Linked DNA regions of Homo sapiens: all the other regions are linked to region 1. Evidence: fine-mapped expression QTL. A gene starts in region 1. Each other region holds a variant in brackets. All regions are shown on one strand. Distances are from middle to middle.

Region 1 (6,397 bases):
GAGGGAGACGTGATGTAATAACACATGAGCTGGGTCTGGCCTCAGACGGCCTAAGGTCCATTACAAGCTGTAGAGCTTTGGCTTGAAGAAACAAAGACAGCCATCTCTAAACCTCGGTTTCTCTAAAATGGTACTGTACCTCGCACAGTTGTCGAGAATTCAAATCCCATACCCTATGTATATCAGCCTGTCCATAATTAGTCACCCTGAGAAACTTTGCTTTCCTGGTCTAGACAGAATGAAAGAAACTGAGTCTGGACCCTGCCCTGTATATGAATTAGAATTTGTGTGCTTTAAGCTGCCCTCCCAGGGCACACCATGGTAAAGAGCAGGGAGCCTAGCTTGACTGTGTAGGTTCGGCTGGATTATTTTAAGCGTATCATTCACTCCCTCAGTGAAGTGAGGGAGTTAGACTAAAACACCTCTTGATATCTCTTCTAGCTTTAAAATTCTACGCAATCCACGGGGGAAGAAATTCAAGAAACCTTGCATACATCAAAACACCAAAAACCCCACTTTCCTTAAAAATGGTTTACAACGAACAGATCACCATCCCTGACATTTCAGGTTTTGCAGTTCACAGTTCACAGTACGGAGGAATGGGCTAAGTCACACTACAGCAGGCTCCCCTCCACGTCTAACAGAGGGGGCGGGGGGTTTTCTTGGAAGACTCGGCCAGTGTCAGGCAGCAAGGGGTAAGGGCTGTCTCGGTGGAGAAAGAAACCCAGGCTTCCGGGAACATAAACTGGGGGATGTAGGGGCAAAGCACCTGCTAAATCTCGTTAGGGTTGGGACTTCAAAGAGGGTTGGGCCTGCTCTGAGAAACAGTGTGGGAATCCCAGCCCCGACCTAAAGGCGACACGTTCACTGCCAAGGACTCAGAGGGAAAGCAGGGAGCGGGGAATGGACGCGGGAGGTGGATGCGAGAAAAAGGCCGAGTAGGGCCCCAGCCCCGGTCACTCACCACGAGCGGGATGGAGCAGATGAGCACCACCAGGGAGGTGGCAATGAGTAAGATGACCATCTGGATCTCGGCGCCCGCGATGCGGCGGAAGCTCCGGCGGCGCCGAAAGTCGCTGAGGCGCGGCAAGGCTGGGGAGGCAGCGGGGTGGCCCCGGGAGGCAACCGAGGCGGCCGCGGCCGCGTGGTGCTGCTCGGTGCCCAGCGAGGTGCGGCGCATGAACTGGCGGTGCATGCGGAGCAGCGCGCCGCACACAAGCACGTTGCAGAGGACGGTGGCGAGAATGAGGAAGGAGCTGAAGCCCGCGTACATGTAGGAGTAGGCGGCGTGCGCCGTCACGTTGGTGGTCCAGTCGATGAAGCACCAGGTGTCTGGGTACTGCAGCCGCGAGCTACCGAGACCCATGTTGGGCAGCGCGCAAAAGAGCACGTTGGACGCATAGACTGCAAAGAGCGTGAGGCCCGCCAATCGCTTGTCCACGTAGTGGCTGTAGAAATAGGCATGGTTGATGGCCAGGTAGCGCTCGACACTCATGGCGCAGATGATGCTGAGGCCGGACAGGCTGAAGAAGAGCAGAATGAAGGTGCTGTACTCGCACAGCGGCTGGCCCCCGGGCCATTGGCCCTTCATGTACGTGGCGATGGTCACCGGGCTCACCAACAAAGTGCCCAACAGGTCGGTGACAGCCAGCCCACATACCAGCGTGTAGAAGGTCGTCTCCTTCTGCTCCTTGCGCGACTTGCACAGCACCACGATGGCCACCAGGTTGCCCACCACCCCGAAGATGAACATCACCGCCGGGATGGTCACTGGGCTGTTCAGCCGGTCGGGGCTCAAGGAGGCGGACGAATTGACCCCGGGAGTGGACATGATAGTGGCTGGCGGTGCGCAGCCTTGGAGTGCAAGGCTGGGTCTGGGGATGGTAGAAGAGAGACAAAGCTGCCGTGAGCGGAAATTACCACTTGTAAGGTGTTAGACCCGCGCCCGAGAAACGATACACTGATAAGACAAGGGGAGCAACTCGATCCTACTTTCTGGATTGTAGCCACTTACCAACTGCGGCCACCAAAATCTCCAGGCTCGCGATACGTCCTGCCAACAGCACACTCTTGCTGACATTAATATTTATAAACTGATTTTCCCATTCCTCTTCCTCCCCACAATCCAACTCACTCCATTGCCAAGATGAATAAGACCCATCTCAAGGGAAAAGTAGCTCGCTAGTGCTATTCTCGATAGATTCTGAATCAATAAAATGCTCACTGAAAACAAGTTACAAAAGCAATTTGGAGAGCGCGCTCTTCCCTTCTTGGCTCTCTTCGGCGAGGGCCGCATCCCTGCGTTCTCTACCCGTTGACCCCAACGTCAGCCCAACGCCATCTCACCTGTAGCGGCAGCAGCGGTGGCAGCCTCACGAGCCCCCAGGGTCAGCCCTCAGATGTCCTGGACCCGCCTCCAACCTGCTTTCACCTTGTCCTGCTCAGTCTGGAAACTGCCAAATCTTCGGCTTCTCAAAGCCGGTCTCAGTGGCTGTCGATTTTTGGACACCGAGGTCAGAGTTGCCAGCTTTCAAAAACTTGGGAAACAAGAGGTGCAGCGGGATGGGTCAGTGAAGAATGGTGCTGGATTTCTTACTCGCTATTTTTTTTCCTTCAAAGACGAGTCCCAGCTTTGCAGTGCCCGCCGGTCTCGTCTGCGGGAGGACAGCGTTCAGGTGTGAGGCTGTGCGCGCAGGTGGCGCGGAGCCTTGGTCCCCAGCTCTGGCTGCCCTCCGCCCCAGCCACGGGCAGCACGGGCGGCTACTGGAGTTTGCGGCTGCCGCTGAGGCCGCTCCTGGCTACCTGGGGGCGGCTCGGGGTCCACTCTGCCAGAGGCTCTGGCCTGGGGCTGTTCATCTTCCTCTCGGGCTGCCGGGCTTGGAGCTCCGCTCTCGCCTTTCCACCCTCTGTACAAACTTTTCTCCTCCTCCAAGTTTCCCTGGCGGAGGCGGAGGCAAACCGCGCGCTGCCCGGGCGCCCATTGGCCGGATTGGAAGGGGGCGGAGCGCGTCCTCCCTGGGCGCCGCAGGGAAGACTGGCGGGGGGCGGTGTCTGGGCTGGGGCGGGGCTGGGCGCGCGGGGTGGGGCGGCTCCCGTGGTTTTCACGCCCTCGGAGGTGCGGAGTGGGAACTCGGAGGGGACCCTGGGAAGCCCCGGTGCTTTCCCCGGCGACCGCTTAGCCGCTCCTGAACTCGGCTTCCAGTGGGGCCACCACTGAAACCGGCGACCGTTTCCGCCTCGCTGCCTGCCGCTCGGAGTGTACTATTTCTTGAACCTCCTGTCCGCGGGCCGCAACATCTAGATCGTGGAAGAGAGGGCAGTTGTTTTAGGATTCTACCTAGGGTTGGCCGAGAAAGGAGAAGAAATACGGTGTCTGCGCTAGCGCGTGCGCCCCGGGGTTAGACTTGGGTGCGCCCAGCGGACGTGGTAGGTGGGTGGGTGGGTGGGTACCAGATTGGGCGGGGAAATAACGAAGAATCCATCCTCTCACCATAAAAGGAGTTGGAGTCAGTTGGCAGTGCCCAGACTGCGGGCTGCGCTTGGTCGGGCACCCCAGGCAAAAAAGAAAAAAAAAAAAGAGAAAGAAAGAGGAGGAGACAGTGATTGCAGCCTCTCCCGGCGCAGGTGGCAGAGCCTTGCGGCTTTGGAGAGAGGTGGAGCCTTGGTGAGGTTGGGAGGACTGCCTAACTGCGATCTTTTTCTCCATTCTTCCTCCTGGGAACTTCTCCGCCCTGAAAGGGTAGCGTGAGCTTCATGCCTTCGGCCGGCCGTGTTATACTCGTTAGACCCAATTCACCATGAATCCTTTGAAAGACTAGTGGAGAGTGAGAAGGGGGTTTCAAAGTCACTGGAGTAAAGGAATTCTCCAAGCACCACCTCATGATTAATTCTTGGAAAAGCCTGTTTGCGCGGCCCTTAGAATCATTTTGACTTCTTGTCTAATGGTGAAGTTTTTCTCTGTAATCCTTCTACTCTGTTTTCTAAAACCAGAACTAAAAACCTAAAAAATTGTAAAACTTCATGGTGTAATTAAAACCCCTTCACCATTTTTTTTAAGTAAGATTGTGTGGCCTTATTGCACAATTTAAATTCCTGGAAAAACCTCTTCCCATCTGCAGTGTACAAGCATTCTAACATATTATGTCTCCTCACAGGGTAAGTAAATAACTGGATTCTTTTATGTGATAAGCAGGTACCCATTTCTTAAATGTTATTTCGTGAACGAACAAACCTCCTAACTGGTTCTTCAGTTAGTCTCAGCAACACATGGGTAATAAGAGAAACTAAAAGGGCTTTCCGATTTCAAGTAATTACAGGTCATAAAATATCCAGAATCATATTTACTTGCAAAAGGCACTATATGGATATACTAATAAAGAATTATTCTGTTTATACTATTTACTTAATAATATGAGAAAGAAAAATACACATTTGTTAGCCAATATTAAGATTGATGGTGATTGGTCATTTTCTTAAAAATCTTCTTTTAATCAGTACTCTAATCACTTCTGTTGTCGATGCTTCCTTTGAACAGTAACCTCTAGGATTGTGTCAGCACAGAAAACAAATCAACATTAGAAAAAAGGAAACTGCACACTCTGCGCCATTCCTCACTAACCACATTGCTTTGCTATCACTCATGTCAGTTGCTTGTCAGTAAATATATGGAGGGGAGGTTGGGAAGTCCCTTATATTCACTTTCTGCTAATACAAATTTTTTTTTTCAATTTTCTTTCCATATGAAGCTTGTAAAAGAGAAAACAATTGGTTGCTATTTATTAATTTAAGAATGATGAAGAATATATTAAATATAAAAACTGAGACACACTGCTGAGATAATTAGTAACTGTTACAGGTATTAGCATGTCATTGACAAACCAGACTTGTTATCAATTGAGCTATTTTTCTTACTAGTCCTTTGAATTTTCTTTCTACAGTAGCTTTAGGAAGAAGGAAAATAAATAACCTAATGCTCAATACTAAAAAATTGTAATGAGGTTTATCTGTAGTCTCTTTTGTTGTACGATTCTTAAAACTTAAATTTAGCTTTCAAAAGTAGAAGTTGAAAGTTTAGGTAGCAAATTATTTTATTTTCTTAGTTTGAAAAACTGGGACAGTGGAGCTCAGTTTCTCTTACACTCTGCCAGGAATTTGCATTGCAAAAGGAAAGGAAAAATTGCCATAATTATGTGGGCAATTCTTGTCATTTTTTTTCAATGAAAAGATTTTTATTCTAAGCACTTTAAAAATTCTCCCTCGCAGTTTCTGCCACAATCCCTACTTCTCTATGCTGGAAGACCCCAGTTCAGTTATTTAAAACTGTCATTAAATAACTCTCTGAAGGTTTGAACTACTCCAAGAACTGTTTGATCAGTTTGATTGCTCTGTTATAGCTAATTATTTGACGAGTTTTTTGAGTAAACATATTAAGGTGGGAACCCATTTATAAACAAAGGCCGCTTGGGAGCTAGTAACCACTTTTAGTTTTCCTTGGATCAAAGGAAATATGGGACAGACAGGACCTGGGCTCAGCCAGCAGGAGTGGGGTGAGAAAGGGGATCATTTCCAGGAGGAAGGCAGCAGGATGAGTCAGATCTGGCCTGGACCCCTTCCTGAGCCGCAGCTGGCAGGATCTTAGAGCATTCCTGAAGCACTAATATTCATGTAGCAAAGCCTGTGCAAATTGTGTTTGCTTTTCTCTTTCATGACAGGCCATGCAGAGACTCAAAACAGTGTGAAAGGCATCTATCAGGTACAAATAGCAAAGTACCCTTGGACACATTTGCCCTCCACAGGCTCTTCCAGTTGGTTTAGTGGATTACAAACATGGCATTCACCTGACCCTAAGATGACTGCCTTCCCTTTTTAGTGGTACATTTCAAATGTGTGCCCTCTTAATTATTTTCATTTTCTAAGCATGAAGTTTATGCTGAGCCCAATGCCTGGAGCTGACACATGTCAGTGCTGTGATTAACTCCCCAACATCTTCATGTGGTGATAAATTACTGCTGTGGAGGCTGGCCCCTACTGAGTGATTGCTTCAGGCTGCTCTGACAGCCTGCTCTGACAATTACACTCCTCAAAGTAATAGCTTTCTGCTCTTTTATTCTGCTCGCTCCCTTTTTTTCCCTCCAGTTTCACCACACGCCCATGTGGATTGGACCAATGGGCAAAGAAAGGAGATTATTTACCTGCAGTGGCCTTTTTTTTTTTTTTTTTTGAGACAGATTCTCGCTCTGTCGCCCAGGCTGGAGTGCAGTGGTGCAACTTGGCTCACTGCAACCTCCGCCTCCTGGATTCAAGCAATTCTCCTGTCTCAGCCTCCCTAGTAGCTGAGATTACAGGCATGTGCCACCTTGCCTGGCTAATTTTGTATTTTTAGTAGAGATGGGGTTTC
Region 2 (6,397 bases), 270 kb after region 1:
CCTCCTGTAGAGTTGGAATCTCAGTTAAAAGAGGTGGAAATATGAGCCAAATATATCTTTGATTGAAACAGAAACTCCCTTTCTTTCCTTTTCCCTTCCCCACCCTCACTTCCTTCCTTCTAGCTGCCAAATTTGTGCTGTTGCTGTGGTTTGGGAAGCTATGATTACATAAGCACTGCTCTTGTCTAAACAGGCTGTGTCCATAGTGTGAAAGCTAGGCTCATTCATATAGAAAACAACACTAAAGATAACAGCAAAACTTGACATCCACATTCGAAATTTTAAACTTATATTCTTTTAATGAGAGCGAAAGCAGTAATTAAAAAGGGCATGATTGGGGAGTGGGGGAGGTGTACAAAATTTACTTTAAAAATGGTACTGTTGACTGTTGGAGGCTTCTGATTTTTTTACGTTAAGCAAAATGGAAATAGTTGATTGAGACCCTAGAGAAGAATCATGTGATCTGAGTGAAAAGAAATCCACAGCGATTAGTCATCCAGTTGATGTCAAATAAATCACACAAAATGTTGCCTGTATATCGTGAAATGACTTTCTATTTTTTCCCCAGAGCAGACTACTCTTATCTTAGGTTGGTTTCCATGCATACCTAATTCCTGTTGTTTGGTGTCTGTGTGGACAGAATGATTGAAACAGCTGTGGACTTGCCTGACACTAAGTCATCAGCTATTGGAAAGAGTGCTTTGAACAAAGACATCATGCGCTGCCTGAAGGGAAGAGGAAGCCACAAACAGCATCAGAACATGAAGAAAATGTAGGTCACGGCTGCTACCCTGGTGATAGGGAGTACACTTTTATACCTTCATGACGTTGAAAGCATGAGAAGGATGCAGGGGGAATATACACCAGGAGACACATCATCTCTGAATACAAAGCGTAGAAATGTGTGTGTCTCAGACTTCCTTTTTCTTCTGAGTTAGCTCATTTAAGCAATCATATAATCGTACTTGGCGGATGGTGTGGGGCAGGGTGCATGTTTGTGCACTGTTACTGTGGAGATCTATTGCATATATTTTTAATTTTTACAATAGTTTTTGAAGGCTCTTTATATAAAAACAAAGCAAATACAAAACATTAATATACAAAGCATCAAGTCTTTAGCAAGTCTTTTGCCAAAATGAGCTTATTTCAGCATAAAGTGGAATAGCAAAATTTAAAGGAAGGGTAGGTGGCAACCTGATGAACTCCTTTCAATAAAAAGGATGTCCTAAATTTTCTTCTGTATTCATTTCTGTGCTTCCAATTTACTTGGCTCTAGATGTCTTAAATATGCTCCATGAACAGCTTTACTCGAAGGCACTAGGAATTTACAAAGGGGGAAAATTTTTAAAAAATATTGTCACACTGTTCTTTCTCCATGAAGTCCCACTTTCGCTCTTTGAGTGCTTCTTGCTGAATGTTTGCACAACATCCGGCTGCCTTTGCAGACGTGCCCTCCCACTCATCTCTATGGTTCCTTCTCTCCTTCCTTGGGCTGAGTCCTCCCCTCCTCTGGGGTCTTGATGCTTCCCAGAGCTCCTCCCTGGTAAAACTCTAAGCTGCTCTTGCAGGCTATAAGTTCATGCCCTTCCTTATGCATGGAGAATACTGGAAATAGAAGGCAGGTTATTTGTATCCATGACAATCCAGAACATTAAATTCGTCTGATAATGCTCTTTAACTTTTTGCAAGTTCTACCTGCTTTAGGCCCATCTGATAAGAATTTTAAAAAGAGGTTGGCAAACTATACCTGAGGATCAAATTCAGCCCACTGCCTCTTGTACAGCCTGTGTATTAAAGACCAATTTTATATTTTCAAATTGTTGAAAACAATTAAAAGAAGAATAATATTTCAAGACACATGAAAATCATGTGAAATTCCAATTTTGGCATCCACAAATAAAGTTTTATTGGGATTCCATTGCTTTCATTTGTTTATGTATTGTCTAAAATGTTGTTTTTGCACTACACTGGCAGAGTTGGCCTACAAAGCTGAAACATTCACTCTCTGGCTCTTTACAGAAAAAGTTTGTCAACCTCTGATTTAAACCAATTTTAAAATTTACATATTAATTTGCTAATGGTACACAAGAGAGAAAAATTTCCCAGGGCAGAAATTATATTTTTATCATTATTAAAACCTTAGTGGTTAACACAGTGATGTACTTGTAGCAGTTACTCAGTAGATATTTGTTGGAGAGATTTACAATGATCCAGCTTCTATGCAGCCTTTGGAAGAATATCTGTTTGGGGAAGCTTTGCCAGCAGGCAAGAGATTCATGTCTTTTCTCCTTAGCTTTTCTCTTCTCTGTATACATGTTGTGGAACATACACACCTAGAATGTAATCTTCTTTTTAACTGACCACAAAAATTTGGAATTTATCACACTTTCCACAATTGGAGATTTTATTCTAAAAATTATGTACTCTACTCAGAGGCTGTGTACTGGTTATCTATTACTGCATGCAAGTTACCCCAAACCCAGTGATTTAAAATAATAACCATTTTAATAAATTATTTATTTATATGACATACTTTTGTGGATTAGGAATTCAGGCAGGGCTTAGCTGGGGATTCTTCTGCTCCACACGGTTTCACTGGCATTACTGGAGAAGTATTCAGCCGGTGCCCAGGCTGCTCTGGAGGGTTCTGTGCCTGCTGCCTTGATGGGGATGGTGGGAAAGGGGGCTCAGCTGGCCCCTTCTCCATATAGTCTCAGGGCCTCTCCGTATGATCTCTTGAGCAAGGCAGTCAGAGCTGTGGCGGCTCAAAGCTCCCAGAGACCAAGGTGGAGACTGCCAGTTCTCTTAGAGTTAACGCCCAGAGGGCAGAGTGTCATTTCGGCCACACTGCATGCATCAAAGCAGTTACAAGCAAGCTCAGATTCAAAAGGAGGGGAAATAGACCCCATCTCTCAAAAGGAAGAGTGTTAAAGAATTTGTGGCCATCTTTAATCTGCCATAGGGCGCTTCTAGTTTGATTTTTAACTTCACTTATTTCCGTTATGTAGGACAGCCTCCTTTGTCCTTCTAACATATTATCTTTCTTAAACTGTCTTTTATGTTCTCATTTCTGAGCCCTGGAATTGTCAGGTGTCTAGACAAAGAGAGGACCAGCTCAGACTGGGCAGGGTTATGAGGGAATAGCCAAAGGACACTGGGTACCTTTTTCAGAAAGTGATTCTTCCCCAAAACAGTCTACTTCACCTCCTAAAATACTTAAAAGAGAAGCTAGGAGGCCTGCAGGCCCACCCTGAACCCCAGCTCTCCGGGAGAGAAGTTCTAAACTACATTCCTATATACTATACTTAAGGACATCTTACATAATATCATTTGGAAGATATACTTTTTTTTTTCTTTGAGGCAAGGTCTCACTCTGTCACCTAGGCCAGAGTACAGTGGTACAATCATGGCTCACTGCAGCCTTGGCCTCCTGGGCTCAAGTGATCCTCCCACCTCAGTCTCCCGAGTAGCTGGGACTACAGGTACCTGCCACCATGCTCAACTAATTTTTCTATTTTTTGTAGAGTGGGGTTCCACCCTGTTGCCCAGGCTGGTTTTGAACTCCTGGGCTCAAACAGTCTGCCCTTCTTAGCCTCCCAAACTGCTGGGATTACAGGTGTGAGCCACCACACCTGGCCTAATTTATTTTTTTCATTCATTGGAAAGAAGAATCAGCCCTGTCTTTCACTGTGTAGAAATAGCTAAAGAAAACACAAGCTAAGATAATGTCAGTTTAGGGCCTGGTTTATAGAATTTTTTGGAGAAAATCTAGTCACTTGTAACACACAAGAAGAACACAAATGATAAGCACACAGGATATAGATATTTAAATACATCAACATTTTATGGACAGGTAAGGTGTTCCAAACACTATAATATTTCTTCATCATCTGGGGCACTCCTTCTGCTGTGGTTTGATGACCAGAGAGGTCAGCAAGGTTATAGCCATATGTAGATTCACCAGCTGAAAGAGAAATCCAGACCCTTCTGCTGCCTTGCATCTGGTTTTGTAATTGTATTTCCTTTTCTTTCAGCTCTAGGCCTTGACCTGCCATAACAGTTGCTTTCTCTTTGTGCCCCGAGGGGAACTTGTTTTCTTCTCCCACAGCTAATGCCTGATAGCCTCCTTGTACATTTCCCCTGTTGGTCAGAGTTTTCAGTAACTGAAGCTGTTGTGGCCAACACTGAG[C/A]GGCCACAGCACATTGTCACTGTTGCATATAGGCTCCCGTACTTCCTTGTTCTATAAAAAGTCACATGAGGTTGTGGGGCCAGATTGTAAATTTTCTCCAGGCAACCATAAACTCTTAATGTTTTCACACAGAGAAAGGAAAGGGCCTGTCTTAGTGATGAAAATAGGAGTGTACGTTTTTCTTTTCTTTCTTTTCTCTCTGATGCAGAGATGGATCAGAGCAAGGTCTCTACATGGTGAAGCAGTTACTCAAAAAATTGAGGCTGGGACTGGAGAACTGGTCCGCGGTTCCTGTCTTTGTTGTTGGTGGTGTTAGGCATGTGTGTTTCGAGAACTTTGAACATGCAGAAGAGTTTGTACTTTTTGTGGCTTGTCTGGGTTCAAACAAATGTACAGCCTTGTGAAGAGTCATTTTCATTGGCTAAAAACGAACTCTGCTTTATTATTATCAGATAGTGTAAACAGAGATAGAACAAACCTTTGAAAAATGCTTTATAATGTAGTGGAGAGCTAAACCATTAATAATCCATCTTTAAAGATCTGAAAAACATCTGTGGTAAGATCTTGCCAGGAGGAGAGCTTTTCTATGAAACAGCTTTTCCTTTATTTTTCTTCATGGCAGAATTGATATTTAAGGGGGACCTTCTTGTTGAAAACAATTAAAAGAAGAATAATATTTCTTGACATGTGTTTTCATAGTCCTTAAACTCTCTTTTTCTTCAAAAATATTATATAGTTTCTGAAATTGGTGGATCCTCTTCGTTAACTCACTCTGAATTATTCATAGTCACTACGATTGTCCCTCAGTTAGGAGACTTTGGAAATCCCCCTGACATCCTTTCTTGCCAAATTTGTCTGGTTGCCTGCCTACAATATTTTTTTCCTAATCTGACTAGGCATCTCTGACTTACTTTAGCACATGCAGTGTTTCAGAGTCTGATATAGTAGCACGCTACACAATTTGAAAATAAGCTTTCCACTGGGACAGTGGCCTCAAATTGCCTCAAAGAACAATTCAAGTTCTTTAGATATGGAAAGGGAGCTCTGAAGAGCTATCATTTCTTACCTGGTATAAGCAGTTGGGGAACTAATCACTAGGAGTTTTATCCAAACTTCTCTTGGTTTTTCAGGAGTCATTGACAGGGTGGTTTTTAAATCTCAGCCCTCTGAAAAGACAAATTTTGTTCTTCATTCTCTTGAAATTCCAAAGAGGTTATATTACCCTGAATTCCCTTTCAGCTTCTTGTGGTGTCTACTTGCCGTCATCGCAACCTACCACCTTGGTACTAAACATGGGTCCCGGTCCCTCCGAGCTTTGCTGTGTGCTGGTGGCCAAGAAAGTCCTGATGAGACCTAAAAGAATAGAGCTGACAAGGGTGTTTGTAGTCTAATCAGTGACTCCTAAAGACTCCAAGCACAAAATTCAAAGGTTGACTTTTTACCAATGTACTTTCCTTTTATATTTTAGGATGACATCTTCACGAATCATAGGAAGGTAACCTTGACAGGATCTGAACTCAGAGCTGTTTAGAAAGATGAAAAAAATACACACTTTTATTTGCTTTTGGAAATGCTTGTCCCAGATCTGACAAGTGGCCACATGTGACCAGTTATGATGAAATGCAGGAAATAACTTACGATAACCCTGACTTAAGAATGTGAACATCCTCCAGCATGCTTAAGTCCAGCCTACTGGGTTCTTTTTGGAGTCTAAGGTCAGCTACAGCTTTTTGATCCATAGAACTTGATGTCCATTTCTGGGGAAGGATAATATGGTTTAGAAATTCCATTAAATGGCTAGAATGGTTACTGTTCTTTTTCAAGTCCAGGTATAAAGACAGAATTAAATACTTTTCCTTGTCATTATCCATACTTAACTTTCACAGTTTCATATTATTAAAAATAAATTGTGATTTACCTCTACCAACTTCCAAAAAGAAATCAAAGCAGAATGCAAAAGCATTGTCAATGCAGTGCCTCATGTTGATGCCACTGTCCTAAGATCTTCCTTGCAAAGAAAGGATGAATTTTTTTCTCAGCAAATTTCTTCTTCTGGCAACACCTTACACAAGGAATACTGAATACTTTATTTTTTAAAGTGGAATTGTGCCAAACTCTACCAGTTCTATCCAAGTAGAAAAAATAGATTTCCTCATTTTACACTGCCTCATGAACTATATGTATGTATACATGTGTTTCCTAATCTTC
Region 3 (6,397 bases), 280 kb after region 1:
ACATCCCACCAGGCCCCTCTTCCAGCACTGGAGAATTCGACATGAGATGTGGGTGAGGACACAGATCCAAACCATATTAGGCTCTTACTGTTAATCTTTCCTCAATGCATTAAAAGACTTGGGTTACAAATCCAAGCTAAGATTTTCACTCAGGAAATTCGTGCATAATCAGACATGCGAACTTTGTTTTTTCTCATTGTACCAGTCTATCAAGGGGCAGCTTAACCCCCTCGGCTTGTATAAGTCCTAGTTTTGGGTATTTACAGTATCTTGTCAGCTTAGCGATATATTCTTTTTTCCTAATATGGTTTCTCCTTTGCCTACAAAATTCCCAACTGCTCTAAGGCAATTGCAATCTGTCTTAGTCTGGTAGAAATGAAAAACCATTGCTTACCTTTAAACACCCAGAAAATTAAAAAACAAAAACAAAAACAAAAATAAAACCCGCTTTCTTCTTTTGTTTAGCTAAGACTCCTTCTCATTTTTTTTAATCTATTCCCCATTAAATCCTATTTCTTAACCCTTTCTTCACCACTCACTTTAAAGATCTCCACATATACCTTAAGGCAGAGATGTAGGCTGAATTTCAAACTCCTAACATCTTACTTACCAAAACTGTGGCAAGATTACACATGTGAGTTGCCTTTTCCTGGCCTTATTGTTCATTGACCCACAGAAGTGGTCTCCTGTGTCTGATACTCCTTTGACCATCACCCATCAACCAGGCAATCACCTTTGGGATTCATCAGTTGCCTAATGTTGCAGAATTTGACTTTAGGTCCAGGATCTTTGCCGTCTCTGGGGAAGTATACTGAAAAAGGCATTTTACATCAGGGGTCTACTAAAATTGTCAGCTTTCTAAACCTAAATTCATCTCTTCAGGTTTGTAATTCAGTTGCTCTAATAAACAGCAACACAAAAACAAAAGCAAGACAAAAAAAGAAACAAGTTCCTTACCTTCTTACAAATACACACCCTTGTGAAATCCGGTCTGGTCTCTGTACAGGCAGCACTATGTTGGTAAGCCATTATCTCTTACCATTCTTTCAAGCCCAATATGATTAATTTTATTCTTAAGAATAGAAAACTACAGCTATATGTATATGTGTATTATATATGTATATGTACATATACATATATGTATATATATACAGCTATATGTATATGTGTATTATATATGTATATTATATATGTGTGTATATTTTTTCCACAACACAATTTTAAAAATTGATTCTTCCCATGACATTGTTATAATTATCATCCTCATTAAATACTTGTGAAATATCTACCATATGAATTGCGATAGGCATTTAGGCACAATGGTGAGTGCAAGGAATTCTATAAATATATATGCACTCAGGGGCCTTGAATTTAAGTTGTTCAGGCAGATGCATTATTCACAAAGAGGTGAATGACTATCCAGATAGGACACTGTGAGTGCCCAAGTATCTGGAGAAGACTGGAGTTCATGCCATGCCTGTGGACATGCTAATGCTCTGAAGGGGTCTTAGCTTCTCTGAAGTGAAGTGATTGAAGGGTAGGGTAGAGTCGTGGTAGAGAACAGAACTGAAGCACAGGGTCTGAGGCAGGTGGGGGGATGGGGAGATGACTGCTTGACAGATTCTGTTTTTTTCAGAGAAGCATAGAGAAGATGAATCACCCTGACATAACACAAGTAGCCTAGGAGGAAGAGTTCTGTCTGTGGCCATGAGTTGTGTAGCCTCAGGCAAGTCATTTAATGTCTTGGAATTTTAGTTGCTATCTTTGTAAAATGAGGGTTGGTTTACTCTTTGAAATGGGGACAAGTTCTGAGGTGGAAGCTTAGCAGGAAAAGTCTAAGCAATTAATTTGTGAGACAGAAACTATACAGATTGCTTTCTGCTCGGTAATAAAACTATCAAAAGATCATCATTCTAAGGTACTGCCAGTTTGTAATCATGATTGGAGGATAGACTTGGTGGGAGGCTGTAACATATGTGTTAAGAAACACAGTGAAATGGAATTAATAAAACAGGTAAGATTAATAATGACAGGTCTTAGGTAGTTGGGGAAATGTCTGAGAGCTTAATCAATGAAGTGATAGAATCTGAAGTTTAAATTTATGATTTAGTTATCTTCTGAATGTTCTCATTATGATACAGTGAGTCTCCCAGACTGTGGCTTTTAGGCTAAGCAATATTATGCGTATTAAGGGACACAAGGGATTTGACTGTGTCA[A/G]GTTTCAGTAATGATGATTCTGAGAGCTCCATTAAACATCTCTGCTTTCCTCTGAGCTAGAAGGCAAATTAGGCAGCAGTAAATGAGGCTTGAAGGAAATAGAAATGAGCAGCAATGGTCACAGCGAAAGTGAGATGAGGCCATGCACACACAGGCATACAGGGAATGAGAAGCTATTTGAAAACGTGACTGGGAGGAAATGCTTTGTGAGAGGAGCCTTGGAGGAGAGATATGTGTGAATCATGGCCAAAAATCAGCTCAGTGGGAACCTAAAAAAACATGATGTACAAAACTTAAGGAGCTCAATTCCGCTTCAGCACTGTAGGGTGACTATAGTTAACAATAATTTATTGTATATTTCAAAATACCTGGAGGAGAAGACTTGAAATATTCCCAACACAAAGAAATGATAAGTATTTGAGGTGATGGATATACTAACTACCCTGACTTGATCACTATACATTGTACCCCATACATACGTACCTTTTTAAAAAACTGTACATAAAACTGTACAATATATAATGATATGTATATGTATACAATATATGATAATATGTACATGATAAATATGTATAATGACACATATGTATATACTTACCCCATACATATGTACAGTTTTTTAAAAATAAGGTAAAGGAAAGTCTAACAAGGATTGTGGCCTTGAAAATACTATAATTAAATCATTAATTCTCACCTTTAATTCACCTGGAAGAGTTTACCCTGCTCCCCTATCCCATCCCATTCCATTCCAATACACACATATTTTAGGTAAACTGATTGAAATTTTTTTTCTATTATGGAAGTTGGTTGTCCCAGGCCAAGAAAATAACCTACCCTAAAACTGTATTTAAATGCTTGAAAACTTGAGTCTCAAAAAGGGATGCAAATATGAAGTTATGTCCAAAATTCCCACTCATTAGAGAATGTAAATGAGAACAATATTGAGATAGCATCATTTTGCTGATCAGACTAGGGACAAATAATCATGCATAGATGGTATTGGCACTCCCACCCCCACATCCTTTTGGCCGATCCCAGAGTTTGTCTGCAGACATTTCTCAGACATGACAACAAATTCCTGCACCTTTCCTCCAGTGGGCTATCTTTGGACACAGGAGCATGCTTTGTCCCTGCACAGGTCAGATGGGAAGTAACTGAGCCAGAATGCCTTGGAGTACCTCCAAACTACTAAGGGCTGGTGAATAAATACTTCACATCTTTGCCTTTTGTTGGAACAATCCTAAGTTGTGTTCCATATGGCCTTTCCATGGGTCTCCAGAATAATTGAGCCCAATTGCCCATACAGTAGGGTAACCAACTTATCTCTGCTTTTCTAGAACTGTCCCAATTTTAGCATTGGAAATTCTGTGTCCTGGGACACCCCATTGATTCCATGCAAACTGTGATAGTTGACCACACTACGAATAGAGGTAACTGGCTAGTCAATGTTCTGTCTATTTGTTCCCCACTTCTTGTCTTACTCCTTGCAACCTCATAGTGATTCCTGGAATTAACTTCAAAATAAACTACAGATGCTCCCCCATTTACAATGGGGTTATGTCCTGATAAACCATTGTAAGTTGAAAATATGACTAAGTCAAAAATGCATTTAATATACCTAACCTACCAAACATCATACTTTAGCTTAGCCCACCTTAAACATGCTTGGAACACTTACATTGGCCTATAGTTGGGCAAAATCATCTGGCAACACAATGTACTGTACAGTACTGGTATTTTTACCTTTGTGTGGCTGAGTGAGAGCTGCAGCTTACTGCATGGCCCAGCATCATGTGAGAGAATCACACTGTTTTCTACTGAATGTCTATAGTTTGTGCACCATTGTAAAGTTGAAAAAGTATAAGTGGAATCATTGGAAGTCAGTGACCATCTGTATTGCCTTCACATTTTTGTCTCAGGACCTGCTTTCAGGGGAATTCAAGTGAAGCCAGTTGATGATATCCACACTGTGAGGGTGTAAAGAAATAAGGCGACTCATACATTGTGTGGAAAGCAGAAATTTTCATAGCCCTTTGGAGGGTAATTGAACAGGCTTATGAAGTAAGAAAGTAATATGAACTGTCAGTGTGACTCTAAAGCTCATGACTTGCATTTTAAAAATGCATACACTTTGAATCAGGAATTCTTTGTCTAAGACTTTCTTTAGTAGTAATGCCCAAATGAGCACAAAGATGTAAACATGAAGATGTCCTCTGTGGATTGTCACACAATAAAAAAAATTAAAAATATCTGTCAATGTATGTCAAAATATCACTAGTAGGGGAATGATTTAGCAAATTTGTAGTATAAGCATTCCATAAAACACTATGAAGCTATTAAAAAGCATGAGGTCAATTTGTATTATACTGGTAAGAGAGACGTTTATGATATATTAGTAAGCAAAGATAATCAAATTAAAAATGTGTATCATGCTTTCTATATATCTGCATTTTTTCTGTCTCTTCCTGGAAACACGTGTATACACACACACACACACACACAAACACGCAAACACACAAATTATTAACATAATACCACTGGAGTGGGAGTTGACTTGGAGGTGAAGGTGGAACAGAAGAGGTTATGAAGGAAATTGCCTCTGTTTATTTAACGATGATAATGATGAAGTTTCTTTTTACAATGGGTGCATATTATTTTTAAAATGGAAAAAATAGAAAATGCATTGCATTTGGAAATGAACACCTGAAGTATGCTTCATCATTTTAATTTTTCATAAACTCCATCAATATTGGCAGCAAGAGAACTCGAGATTTGAGCTGTATGTTCTTCTATCTTACATATACCAGTGTAAAAGTGTGTTGTAACCAAATTTAAGCATATAGGTAACCTAAAAGGTAATTCATTAGATAAATTGTCCTATTGGATAATTGGTAGATATCCAATGGCTGTTGACACCATTGTGTTATAATCAATTGCTTGCTCTTTTAAAGATGAGAAAGACCACATAGAACATATATTAGGCCGGTGCAAAAGTAATTGCAGTTTTTGCAATCGAAAGTAATTGTAATACTTCAAACACTCATTATAGTTTTCAAAAGCAAAGAAGAAAAACCATAATTACAAGGGCAAACAGGAAATTAAAATCAACTCTAGATGTATACCTAAACCTCTTCCATTTTTTTTGTTTCTTTATTCAGGAAATTAAATGATGTTGAATGACAAAGATCTGCAATCTCTCAAGTGGTTGAGAGGAAGTATGACATTGACTTAGGAGAAGACTATGGCAAATGATGCTGTAGTCAGGAAGAATGAATAGATTTGAAAAAATACAGAGAAAAACTAACCACAGAAAGAGTCAACTCATTGTTGCCTATGGGTGTTTTTGTCTCCAGTTTGTTTTCCATAGACTTCAATGAGTGTGGATGGGTTTGAGAGATTATGTACTCCCTAGTCACAGTGAATCTAACAATGAAGTAAGAAAGACATGTGGTTGGCGCTGAGAAACATGGTCTCTGCTTGGCCATGTGATTATGAGCAAAGCATCCTCAGCTTAACCTTCTGTAGACTGGGAATAATTATGTTAACTACAAGTTGCTCTGAAGATTAAATGAGAAAATGTACACCAAATCACTTGGTTTAGATAGCACTACTCGTGTTGATTTTTATTATTATTCTATTTCAATTTTTTAAAATTCTTGTGTTGGAGTGAATAATAGTAAGAAAACCAAAAAAACTTAAGTAATACATGATTTTTGTAAAACTGCTCCTCATGACCTTTAACATGATCAATGTGGCTGGTAGATATCCATGGATACTCAGGAGGAACAATTAAGCTGACATTGATAAGAAGCAGCAAATAGTGTCTATTAAACCTGCTTGGTTAATAATATAGGGTTAATTCATTCAACTGGTATTTATTAAGTATGAACTACGGTTCATGCACTGTTTTAGATGCTATGGACAGACAATATTGAGTACAACAGGGATTCCACCCCAACAACTTAGAATCTAGTGCAATTTAAAAGCATTAAAAATAACAATCATAATTCCAAATAGAATACCAACAGCTGGAATCAGTCAGTCCTTTTTCCTACTAAAATCTCTTTAATCATACCTCCAAAACATGGACCCTAACTATAAAAATACAGAGATTTTGTCCAGTTCTAAAGTTCTGTGAGCGATTACCCTCAACTTGGGTTTAGCAGGGAAGGCTTCACAG
Region 4 (6,397 bases), 110 kb before region 1:
CATCTATCTGTTGGCCATTTGTTTGTCTTTTTTTTTATTTTTATTTTTGAGACAGTGTCTCACTCTGTTGCCCAGGCTGGAGTGCAGTGGCATGATCATGGCTCACTGCAGCCTTGACCTCCTGGGCTCAAGCGATCCTCCCACCTCTGCCTCCCAAGTAGCTGGGACTACAGGCATACACCACCACGCCTGGCTAATTTATGTATGTTTTATAGAGACAAGGTCTCACTGTGTTGCTTAGACTGGTCTTGTATTCTTGGGCTCAAGTGATCCACCCGCGTCGGCCTCCCAAAGTGCTGAGATTACAGGCATGAGCCACCATGCCTGGCCGGATATTAGCTATATATCTGATGCATGATTTGTAAATACGTTTTCTCAGTCTTTGGGTTGTCTCTTCACTCTATTTGTTTTTGCTTGTTTGTTTGTTTTTTTGAGATGCAGTCTCCCTCTGTCACCCAGGCTGGAGTGCAATGGCGTGATCTTGGCTCACTGCAGCGTCCGCCTCCCGGGTTCAAGCGATTCTTTTGCCTCAGCCTCATGAGTAGCTGGGACTACAGGTGTGCACCACTACGCTCAGCTAATTTTGTATTTTTAGTAGAGATAGGGCTTCACCATGTTGGTCAGGCTGGTCTCGAACTCCTGACCTTGTGATCCGCCTGCCTCGGCCTGCCAAAGTGTTGGGATTACGCGTCTGGCCTGTTTGTTTGTTTTTTGCTGTTCAGAAGCTTTTTAGTTTGATGTCATCCCATTTGTTTATTATTGCTTTTGTTGCCTGTGCATTAGGGGATCATATACAAGAAATGATTGCCCAAACCTGTGTCATGGAGCTTCTCGCCTAAGTTTTCTTCTAGTAGATTTGTAATTTCAGGTCCTAAATTTAATCCATTTTAAGTTGATACTTGTTAAGGGGTGAGATAAGGGTCCATTTCCATTCTTCTGTATGTGGCTATCCAGTTTTCCAAATGACATTATTGAAGAGACTGTCCTTTCCACATTGTGTAGTCTTGGCACCTTTGTCAAAAATCCATTGATTATAGATATATGCATTTATTCTGGGCTATCCATCCTATTCCATTGGTGGACATGTCTGTTTTTATGTCAGTGCCGTGCTGTTTTAATTACTATAGGTTTGTAATATATTTTCAAACATGGTAGTGTGATGCCTCCAGCTTTGTTCTCTTTGGACCTAAAGTCTATTTTGTCTGAAATAAATATAGCTATCTCTGTTCTCTTTTTGTTTGCATTTGTATGGAATATCTTTTTCAGTCCCTTCATTTTCAGTCTATGAGTGTCCTTTATGGTGAAGTGAGTCTCTTTATAGGCAGCGCAGAGTTGGATCTTGTTTTTTATCCATTTAGCCACTCTATGCCTGTTGTTTGGAGAATTTAATCTGTTTACATTGGAAGTAATTATTGATAGGTAAGGACTTAGTAGTGCCATTTTGTTAATTGTTTTCTAGTGTTTCTGTAGAACCTTTGTCCCTTTCTCTATTACTTTCCCCCTTTGTGGCTCGATTGCTTTCTGTAGTGGTCCACTTTGGATTTTTTCTTTTTATCTTTTGCAAAAGCAAAGGCTTTTGCTTTGTAGTTACCCTGTGGCTTACACAAAACATCTTATAACTGGTATATAAGCTGATAACAAGTTAACTTTGATCACATACACACATTCTACATTTTTACTCCCCCTCTTCCATGTTTTATGTTCATGATGTCACGATATACATTTAAAAAATAATTTGTATCTTTAACAAATTATTGTAGCTTTATTATTATTATTATTATTATTATTATTTTGAGATGGAGTTTCACTCTTGTTGCCGGGACTGGAGTGCAGTGGCGTGATCTTGGCTCACCCCAACCTCCACCTCCTGGGTTCAAGCTATTCTCCTGCCTCAGCCTCGTGAGTAGCTGGGATTACAGGCATGCGCCACCACGCCCGGCTAATTTTGTATTTTTAGTAGAGACGGGGTTTCTCCATGTTGGTCAGGCTGGTCTCAAACTCCCAACCTCAGGTGATATGCCCGCTTCGGCCTCCCAAAGTGCTAGGATTACAGGTGTGAGCCACCGCGCCTGGCTAGCTTTAACTATTTTTAATAGTTTTATCTTTTAACCTTTATACTAGATATATAATTCATTTACTTACCACCATTACAGTATTAGTGTGTTTTGGGGTTGACAGTATACTTACTTTTTCCAGTGAGTTTTATACTTTTCATGTTTTCCTGTCACTCATTAGTGTCTTCTTTATTCAGCTTGAAGAAGTTTCTTTACCATTTCTTTTTCTGTTTCTTTTTGTTTGTTTGAGACAAAGTCTCACTTTGTTGCCTAGGCCAGAGTGCAGTGGTGAGATCTTGGCTCACTGCAACCTCTGCCTGCTCTGTTCAAGTGATCCTTCCACTCAGCCTCCCAAGTAGCTAGGATTACAGGCGTGCACCACCACTGGCAGCTTTTTTTTTTTTTTTTTTTTTTTTTTGTATTTTTAGTAGAGACAGGGTTTCACCATGTTGGCCAGGCCAGTTTTGAACTCCTAACCTCAAGTGCTCTGCCTGCCTCGGCCTCCCAAGGTGCTGGGATTACAGGCGTGAGCCACCATGCCTGACCACTGTTTTTCATTCTTTATCCTTTTTTCTTCTTCAGATTGTATGATTTCCAGTGGCCTGTCTTCTAATTACTAATCTTTTCTTCTGCTTGATGTAGCCTGTGGTTGAACCCCTTTATTGAATTTTTCAGTTCAGTTATACTATTCCTCAGCTCTATGATTACTGTTTGGTACTTCTTTAGAAAATC[C/T]ACTTTTCAACTGATAAACTAACTATATCCATTTCTAGGGCTGCCGTAACAATGCCACAGACTCAATGACTTACAGCAACAGAAAATTATTCTTTGCCAGTACTGGAGGTGAGAAATTTGAAATCAAAGGGCCATCAGGGCCATGTTTCTTCTGAAGGCTCTAGTGGAGAATCTGTTCCTTGCCTCTTCCAGCTGCTGCTGCTTTTTTTTTTTTTTTTGAGACGGAGTCTCACTCTGTCACCCAGAATAGAGTGCAGTGGCATGATCTCAGCTCACTGCAACCTCCGCCTCCTGGGTTCAAGTGATTCTCCTGCCTCAGTCTCTCAAGTAGCTGGGACTATAGGTGTGTTCCACCACTCCTGGCTAATTTTTCTATTTTTAGTAGAGATGGAGTTTCGCCATGTTGGCCAGGCTGGTCTCGAACTCCTGACCTCAGGTGATCTCCCCGCCTCGGCCTCCCAAAGTGCTGGGATTACAGGCGTGAGCCACCGTGCCCAGCCCTCTTTCACCTTCTTGTGGCTCCTGATGTTCCTTGGTTTGTGATAGCATAACTCCAGTCTCTGCCTCTGTCTTCAAATGGCTGCGCTCGCTTGCTCTCTCTCTCTCTCTCTCTCTCTCTCTCTCTCTCTCTCTGTGTGTGTGTGTGTGTGCTCTCCTCTTCTTGTAAGGATACCAGGCATTAGATATAGGGCTCACCCTAAATCCAGTAAGATTTCATCTTCAAATCCTTCACTAGTCACGTCTGAAAAGATCCTATTTCCAAATAAGATAACAATCAGAGATTCTGGGTTGACATAGATTTTGTGGGGACGTTATTCACTTCACTACACTTGTTTTTATATTTTGTATACTTTTAGTTTTATGCTTTCTTTCTTAGTTTTTGAGTAACTTTTAAATTGGTTTGATAGAATGTATTAGTAAAATGTCTGTGGGCTGGGCGTGGTTGGTTAATGCCTGTAATCCCAGCACTTTGGGAGGCCGAGGGGGGGCGGATCACCTGCGGTCAGGAGTTCAAGACCAGCCTGACCAACATGGTGAAACCCCATCTCTACTAAACATACAAAAATTAGCCGGGCGAGGTGGTAGGTGCCTGTAATCCCAGCTACTTGGGAGGCTGAGGTAGGAGAATCGCTTGAACCCAGGAGGCGGAGGTTGCAGTGAGCTGAGATCATGCCATTGCACTCCAGCCTGGGCAACAAGAGCAAAACTCCGTCTCAAAAATAAAAAATAAATAAAATAAAATAAAATGTCTGTGGAATCCTAAGACATTGAAATTGATATGAGGCAGGTTTTCAGTACACTGGATTCATGTTCTGATACAGGAAGGAGGTCATAGTAGCAGTGCCTGGCACATAGTAGGTGCTGGTACTCAAATATTTCTTGAATGAATGAATTTGTATGATTGAATGCATTTCTGGATAATTCTTATTACTACAAGGAATTCAGTCTATTCTTTTCAAAACTGTATATACATTAAGAATTTCTCTGATATGTTTAACTTCCATTTATGTTTTATTAAAAGGATGTGTATTTTTACATGTCTTCTGAGGATTATCTTTTTAAAAAAATCAAATTTCACTTAACCATGTTCGGAAAAAGCATAACTTTAAGAGTCTGACCTGGGTTGAAGTTTTGGCTTTTCCACTCATTAGCTGTGTAACTTTGGGCAAGTTATTTCATCTTTCTGTGCCTCAGTTTCCTGTAAAATGTTGCTAATAATGCCAAGTCTTCCAGGTTGGTGAGAGTGTGTCAGTATGTTTGGGTACAAAGTGAGTATGCTGCAAATATTAACTAGTAAGTTGTATACTTTAATTATGTATTGTAAAGGAACTAGATTTATGTTGTAAAAAATTGTTTTTGTTAAAAAAAGAGCCCTTGTTTATTAAAACTCACATCAAATTAAGCTGCTTTTTTCCTCTGTGTTCTTCTGTGACCAAACAAGTGTTCCTGTAGTAGGTGAAATCACTGTCAAGGATTGGTGTTATGTGTATATATGTCTGATAGTAATCTGTTGAACATTAACCAAAGTCAGGAAATGAGTTGAACTTTGGAAGGTAGAAATCTGAGGATTGGTGGTAGTGGTGGTGGGGTAGGAGTGGTGGAGCGGGTTGGAGGGATTGAAGTATATGGGAATGGGAGCTAGATACATTAAAATGACAGCTATTATTTATTTAGCACTTATGTACCTGGATAAAGGAATGCTATTGCATCTACATGGATAGGTATCACCAATCAGAGCTGAGATAAAACTGGCTATTCAGAGATTAAAACAAATAATTCAGGGCTGATTAGATACAGATGGGGGAACAGGTCTGGGAGCAGTGGAAAATAAATAACCCTAAATAATAAAGGCTACCATTTATTTATCAATCACTTGCTATATGCCAGGCATTGTGGAAAGTGCTTTACAAACACTATTCCATGTATCTGTTATAGTCACCCTTATGGAGTATGTGGTATTCTTATTTTAAAGATGAGTAAATAGAAGGTTGTAGTTTCTTTAACTTGCCCAAGTCAAACATCTAGTAAGTACCTTCAAACAGGAATAAAACCGAGGTCTGTGCGACTATAAAATCTATGCTTTGTATACATACTGCTTTCACATGTGCAATTGGAATTAGGGGTTCAACCCTATTCAACTCTACTTCCAAAAAAGGTGAATCTGCTAATACTACTTCCAATTGTTTTTTTCCCCTTTGGAAATTTTTTTTTTTGAGATGGAGTCTCGCTCTGTTGCCCAGGCTGGAGTGCAGTGGCATGATCTCCGCTCACTGTAACCTCCGCCTCTCGGGTTCAAGCGATTCTCCTGCCTCAGCCTCCTAAGTAGCTGGGATTACAGGTGCGTGCCAACACGCCTGGTTAATTTTTTTTGTATTTTTAGTAGAGATGGGGTTTCAGCATGTTGGCCAAACTGGTCTCGAACTCCTGACCTTGTGATCCACCCACCTCGTCCTCCAAAGTGCTGGGATTACAGGCTTGAGCCACCGCACTCGGCCTTGGAAATTTTTTTTCTAACTGATAAGAATACAAAGCAGCAAGTAAAATTCAAAAAGGATCACAGTGGAATAACTTTTCATTTTAGCATATTAACATTTTTATATGATTTTTTTGTGTAGCTAAAAAATGTAAAATGCATATATAATTTTTTTTTATGTTTGTAAGAACATTTTCTATAGTTTTCCTATGAGAGTCTGTTAGGTTGGAATAACAATGTATTAAACTGTTCTCTGAAATTGGTCAGCCTTTTGTTCTTACATAATACACTGTAATGAACATATTTATGCACATTTTTTTCATCAACTTTTAAATCAAATTCTTAGAAGGAAAACTACAGATTAAAAAAGAAAAGATCCTGATCATGTAATTTGTGTGTGTGTTTATGAATTTGAATGATCTCTTGGCATGGCTGTCAGGGCACTGCCTCTATTCCTGCCACTGTGATACGATCATACTTTTGTGATTTCTTCTATTACTTCAAAAGGGAAGAAGTTATACCACCATACTTTAAAACAATTAATTTATAATTTGATGAAATGCTCAAGTATTAGAAAAAAGTTTTATGGTATATCTTGATTGGTTATGGATTTTGTTCTGCTTATTATGCCTTCTTT
Region 5 (6,397 bases), 300 kb after region 1:
AGCTTCAAGAGTAGGTACTGTACTAAAGCAAAGGCTGGTGGTTATGTTGGCAAAATAGAAAATGAAAATAAAGGAAACCCTATACAGTAAGTCCTCACTTAATGTTGTTGATAGGTTCTTGGAAACTGTGACTTGAAACAAAACAACATAGAATGAAACCAATGTTTTATTCTTATCAAGGATGTTGAAAGAAATGATATTATTCAAAGACCTGTTGTATGTCATTTCACTTTAAGTCACAGTTTCCAAGAACCTATCGACAGCATTAAGTGGACTTACTGTATATCATAAAGTGGAAAGTTTGGCACAGTAGTTACAAAGGGCAAGAGACGAGAAATATGAGGCTAAATTAAACAAGGGCTAAAATTTTAGATGTTATTTAGCAGAAAAGTTATGGTAAGGGAAATATTATTTGGGATTGTGCTTCTTCTATACATTACCTCATTCATCTCTATGGTAACCCTAAAGACACATTGCACAGGCATTCTTCCCAATGAATGCATGAGGAATCTGAGGCATGAGACATTTAGTTACATAACTGACTCTCCAGCTCATTTAAGGCTGGAGATAAAGTGAGAGCCAGAACTTTGGTTCTGAATTTTCTTTGAAAGATTTTCTGGGATCTCTTCTAGCTGTGTGATTGTTATGTGTAGTTTTAAGCATTTATGAGCATCTTACCACCATTCCCAAGAAAATGATCTATGAAGAAAATTGTCTTAATCAGCTCAGGCTGCTACAACAAAATACCATAGACTAAACAAAATACTATGCAATTTGAAGGCTGGGAAGTCTAAGATCAGAGCACTGGTAGATCTGGTATCTGGTGAGTGCACTCTTCCTAGTTTGCAGACAGCTGTTTTTTTGTTATATCTTAACATGGCAGAGAGAGATGATCTCTTGTTTGCCTCTTATTATAGAGGCACTAATCTCATTCATGGTGGAGGATGAATGAGATTAGGGGATGGTTCCACCATCATGACCTAGTAAGTTCCCAAAAGTCCAACCTCCCAATACCATCACATTGGGGATATAGGCTTTAATATGAATTTTGGGAGGACACAAATATTCAGTCCATAGCAGTTGTGATGTACAATATCTCTTCATATCATTTTAAAAAAGGAACAATGGATAGGCTTTTAAATTTGTGTCTTAGCTGTCTTTCATCTAAAATTACCAGTTCTCAAGTACTCTGCAATTTAACTGCTTTCAGAATTTCACTGCCTATCTATTGATGGCATTTTAACTTTCTGGAGCCTGGCAGCCACAGTCACTTAATTAAAAACATATTTGTTTTATTAATAAAGTAGTTACCATTATTTATTATTCAATTTTCAAAATATGGTTGATAATGAACACTCATGGTTTCTTGTTGAAGCAGGTAAATTAGGAAGAAGATCAAGTCTCTCTGAGTTGAATTTACCTTATAATCAGCCTGAAAGCAAAATAAACAATATAGTGTTCTAGTGTTTGAAGGACATGCCATCATTTGCTAAGAAAACATTTAGGTTTTTGAAGATTTTGTAAAACAGTTTGATCCTCTATAGTGCATATTTTGTTACACACATTTTTTTTTTTTTTTTGCTGTGGTCACTAGTAGTGAGGGAGATGTTTATTGGGCTAAACCTAAGGAACTTCGATCACATTGGAAAAATGAGAAGAACAAATAGCAACAAATCCTCCACACATACTGATTGACTTGGACACAGTCTCTTCAGTTTACCTGTGACAGTGTCACCATGGATCATCCTGCAGGCATCTGTTTATCCTCCTTCTGTCAACCTTCAAGTAAAGGCTGTATCTGGAATGTCCTACATTTCCCCATTTATGATCTTTCAGCCCAGATTTATCTTAAATCGACTGAGATTTTCAGCCTATATAACCTTTAGGGATAATAATATCTGGAAGTTTGTCACCCTGTAACCAAAGTAGCACTTTATAATTGAATCAATAGACTTGATTGCATTCTCTAAGAGATTCAGTCTGAAATTTTGTCTAGTTAGAGTCATAGGTCTGTTTCTCTGAAGGAGGTAAAAGAGGATTCATCCAGCCAGTTGTGACTCTCAGGTAAGAAATTTACTTAAGTAATCCATGTGTACTCTCCACCTGTGAGTCTTTAGGTGGCAGTTATAATTTGGTACATAGATGACCTTGTAAGTTTGTTTTAGTCATAGATACTTTACATAAACATAAGTGTAACAGAGGATATTTATTCATCATAAAGTAATGTTCTTCTGGTGGCCACACCTTTAAGGAACATAATATAGCACAGCTTTAGAATGAAATAGTTACCAGATGACATCTTTAAGTGACTCATTGTTTTTTGAAGATCTTGGGGATAAAAGTTCAAATGATATAACTTCCAGGCAAGGGCAATTTCTTGATTATAAAATGATTAAGAAAAAAAGTTATTATATTGGAAGTCTCAAATTTTATCTTCTCACATATTTTTGTAGGTTGTATTATGCATACTGTCAACGTAGTCTCTAATGTTTTATACAAACTCTCAGGAGGAAAGGAGCTAAGTGAGTGGGAAGGATTTGCCATGAGTCATTTGTAGTAATGGTAATGGTATAGACGTACTATCTGGCATAATTAAACTGGTGATGGGAGGTAGAGTTCTCTTGTGTGCACTAAATTCCATTGTTCAATGCAGAATTTCTTAACTTCTCACTATTTCATTCACTCTTTGAGTGCGCCTGTTTTTGGTCAAAACCCGAGGAGTTGTTGGTGGAGTTAGATCGGTTAACAACATCATATCTGTAAAATGCAGGTGACACAATTACAAGGATCATTTAGGGGTGCTTATTACATATATTGTACGTACATATATAGTTCCCCCAGACTACTAAACCAAAATTTCCAATGATAAGACCCAAGAGTATGTATTTTTTAATGGGAACCTTAGACTATTCTTATAATCACAAATTCAGAAACTTTTATCTTAACTAGATACTGTAGGAAAAGCATCTACGTTCTTTTAATTACAGCTAGTACTTTCATTATATTTCAAGTTTTCAAAGCACATCTCATCTCAATTTGTTGTGTAAAGTAGGCAGGGTGAGCATTTTTACCTTGATTTTACAGATATGATATTGTTAACTGACCAAACTTAGCCAACAACTCTTCAGGTTTTAGTTGAAAACAGGAGCAATCAAAGAGTGAGTCGTTGAGGATTAGCCACTCCCCATAACTGCAAGCCCAGGTTGTAATGACAGCATATTTCAGATAATGGTCTATTATACATATGGACATTTATTAGAGGAGCAGGCACCAAATGAGTCTGTAAGTCTGACGAAGTTCAAGTGAACTATCATTGGAGGTTCTTTAACAACACAGAAGAAATATTCACCCGAAGCACACATGGTGACATTCAGAGGTTGGCTCTTGTGCCGTCCTAAACTATTGGCTGGACACCAACTCATTAGTGACTAAAGTCAGTGCTTTCCCTAAGGAACTCAGGGTATAGGTCTCAGTGGTTTCTTATGAAGACAAAGGTGGAGACTGTTTCTAAAATATTTAGTTATTCCAAATGTCTCAAACACTGTTAATTTCACCAGAGAGGGAGCCCAATTCTAACATTCTTCATGCTAATTTTCAAGTCACTAGAATTTGTTACAAGACTGGTCCACGGATCAGCACCATTGACATAACCTGGGAGC[T/G]TGTTAGAAATGCAGGTTCTCAGCCCTGCTCAAGACCAGCGTCTTCATTTTAACAAGATTTTTTGTGATTCAGAAGCATGATAAAGTTTGAGGAACACTGTTCTATAAGTCAGATGCCCCTTGTTTATGCCTTCTAATATACCATAAAGCTGTGATCTGCCTCTATTAGAGCATTTACCATGTTGAATTACAGAATTCATACATTTTGCCAGTTCTACTAGGTCAATTATTATGTCTTACTCATTTCTGCATTTCTATCACATGGCATATATTAGATGCTCAATTCATGTTGAATGAATGAATAAGAAAACTTTCACATGATAAAATTAGTTTTTCAGATCCAATTGTAGTTTTCTCAGATTTATAACTGGCTATGCATCCTCACACACTTGAAGTCAAAATGTGATTAGAAGACAGGGTAGTGGCCAGCTTTCCAGGGCTACCAGTGAGAAAGAAGTAGGTATTGGACCTAGGAACCAGGAAGTAATGGCATGATAGGAAACTCATGAGGGACGGCTTTAGTCCACAAGTAAGTGGATATTGGGAGAAGGTAGAGTTACTTAAGGGGACTGCTATGGAGGGTTTGTGTCCCTCCAAGATTCATGTTAGACCTTAAATCTCAAGGTAATGGTATTAAGAGGTAGAATCTTTGGGATGTGATTAGGCCATGAGCACTCCACTCTCATGAATGAGATTACTATCCTTATAAAAGAGGCTTCAAAGAGCAGTCTGCCCTTCCATCCCATCTGCCAGGTGAGAACACAGCAATTGTACCTTTGGTTTTCTCTACCATTTGAGAACACCATGAGAAAATGCCATTTATGGAAAAGGCCCTCACCAGACACAAAATCTGCTGGTGCTGTGATCTTGGACTTCCCACCCTCCAGAACTGCGAGAAATAAATTTCTACTGTTCATAAATTACTCAGTCTGTGGTATTTTGTTATAGCAGCAAGAATGGACTAAAACAAGAATCATATACACCAGTGATTCTGAATATGTTTTCTGCCTCAAGCCACCCAAGAGATTAGGCAGATTTCCAGCAGTAAGAAGAACTAACTATAACAGAGTTTTTCACTGGAAGCTCTCCCTCAACCATATATAATTCTGCTACAACTCATACCCATATTTTCTGCTAGACTCACTGAGATATGCTGTTGGCTTAATGTCCGGTGTTTTGAATGGGGCAGGAGGGCACTGAGAGGTAACAGTTACCAAGAGCAAATACTGTGTTTGGAATCAAGTGTTTGTTATGGATGGTTGGATTTAGGTGTCTAACCTGGCAGATTAGGCCTAGGTGTCTAGGAATTCAACATCAGGAAACAGCAGGTTATAAGAGGACTCATCAGATGAGGTTTAGCCCAAATCCAGAGACCCCAGGCATGTAACACCTGAGCTGTACCCATTTTATATTTTCTCTCTCTATTAAGTCTCCTTTGGGGTAAACAGTGTTAACTAAAGGCCTAATAATGGCTACAGGTGGAGAGAGAATTTGGGGCCACCATGGAAATGTGAAACAGTATTGGCACCTACCCAGAATCCAGTGGTTAGAGAAAAAATAATGTCCACCCTGTAATTAAGAAGAAAATATTTCTCCTCCTTTACTTTGGATGGTCCTTAGGGGTAATCACAAACCTGGGCTAGGGGGAGCTGAGGGATAACATTTAAAGAGTGGGGAAGGGGTTATGAAGCTTATTGAGGCTTTTGGCCTAAGGCCGGATATTTAAAATAGCATGCCTAGGGAAGGCAGGCAGGCACTATTCAAAAACGAAACTGAATGGAGGAGGCAGTGGTAAAACGAAGGGCAGATTCCCTGTGTGAAGGGTCAGCTCCTACTGATAATGCCTGGTGGGAATCTGTGCTTATTTCTCAAACATAGAAAATAAAAATCTATATTTTAAAATAAAACGTCTCTACTTTTAAACCTTGGCAAATAATTTCAAAGGTATATGAAAGGTATTAATGCTGTGAAGGCTAGAGTCAGTCTGATGGTTGCCAGTTGGTAACATCTGGCCTTAGGAAACTTTTTGGATGTAGGAACTTCCGGACTTCTGTCTTGTGAGTGCTTTGGGGTCTCTCTTTGTGTTCCTTAGAGAACCACAAAGTGTTGACTAGAAACCAAAGAGAAGGAAATGAGAAGTTGGTTAGTTAGTGCTTGTTGTAGTTGAAATGAAGTCAGTCATCTCACTCTAACCACCGTCTATTAGGTTGGTACAAATGTAATTGTGGTTTTTGCCATTACCTTTAATGCACTCACTTTTGCACCAACATAATAACTCACCAAAATAAAAAGCAACCAAACATAAGTGAAACCAAATGAAAGCCAAAATCAACAGCCAAAAACCTCAGCTTCTTTCTCAGTGCCTCCATAGATGGCACAAATTATCTCCTTCATTACCTTACTGGGAAATCTGGTAGTCTTTTTTTTTTTTTTTTTTTTGACTTTTTTTTTTTTCCTTACTCAGGCTTCTCATCCTATCATTATTCAGGTCCAATAGATTTCACCCTTGAAACATCCACAATTCATCCTCTTCCTTCTTCCTTCCTATTGCCATTGTCCTATATTCGATTCTACCATACTTTGCCTAGAATACTCCAAAGGTCTTCTTATTACTATGTCTAACATATTTCAGGAGGAAATGAGATAAACAGGTTCAATAAATTTTCTTCCAGGACACTATGTTTGTGGCCAGGGTCTGTGGTTGAATCCACAGGTAGGACTAAGCAGGTTCTTCTCAC

The links. PIP is the estimated chance that this variant, and not a neighbour inherited with it, causes the effect.
Region 2: its variant is the best candidate, but not a certain one, in a credible set for the expression of PTGER4 in whole blood (TOPMed, PIP 0.72).
Region 3: its variant is the best candidate, but not a certain one, in a credible set for the expression of PTGER4 in whole blood (TOPMed, PIP 0.55).
Region 4: its variant is the best candidate, but not a certain one, in a credible set for the expression of PTGER4 in whole blood (TOPMed, PIP 0.65).
Region 5: its variant is the best candidate, but not a certain one, in a credible set for the expression of PTGER4 in whole blood (INTERVAL, PIP 0.64).

Annotation. Positions count from the first base shown.
Region 1 is chr5:40,676,428-40,682,824 of GRCh38, reverse strand. PTGER4 (prostaglandin E receptor 4) reads right to left here and starts at 2,910. Exons shown (of 3, transcript NM_000958.3): 1 at 2,347-2,910; 2 at 965-1,874. The coding sequence starts at 1,831. RefSeq lists an enhancer at 1,365-1,892 and a silencer at 3,028-3,247.
Region 2 is chr5:40,404,847-40,411,243 of GRCh38, reverse strand. No RefSeq gene overlaps it. Among named protein-coding and RNA genes, the nearest start is that of LINC00604, 170 kb to the right of the region's middle. RefSeq lists enhancers at 4,490-4,549, 4,862-6,061. The variant C/A (reference allele first, on the strand shown) is at 4,190.
Region 3 is chr5:40,397,409-40,403,805 of GRCh38, reverse strand. No RefSeq gene overlaps it. Among named protein-coding and RNA genes, the nearest start is that of LINC00604, 160 kb to the right of the region's middle. The variant A/G (reference allele first, on the strand shown) is at 2,218.
Region 4 is chr5:40,782,862-40,789,258 of GRCh38, reverse strand. The region is part of intron 1 of PRKAA1 (protein kinase AMP-activated catalytic subunit alpha 1); the gene reads left to right. The region is part of intron 2 of LOC124900968 (a long non-coding RNA gene); the gene reads right to left. Among named protein-coding and RNA genes, the nearest start is that of PRKAA1, 12 kb to the left of the region's middle. RefSeq lists a cis regulatory region at 4,797-4,810 and an enhancer at 4,731-4,875. The variant C/T (reference allele first, on the strand shown) is at 2,787.
Region 5 is chr5:40,378,019-40,384,415 of GRCh38, reverse strand. No RefSeq gene overlaps it. Among named protein-coding and RNA genes, the nearest start is that of LINC00604, 140 kb to the right of the region's middle. The variant T/G (reference allele first, on the strand shown) is at 3,660.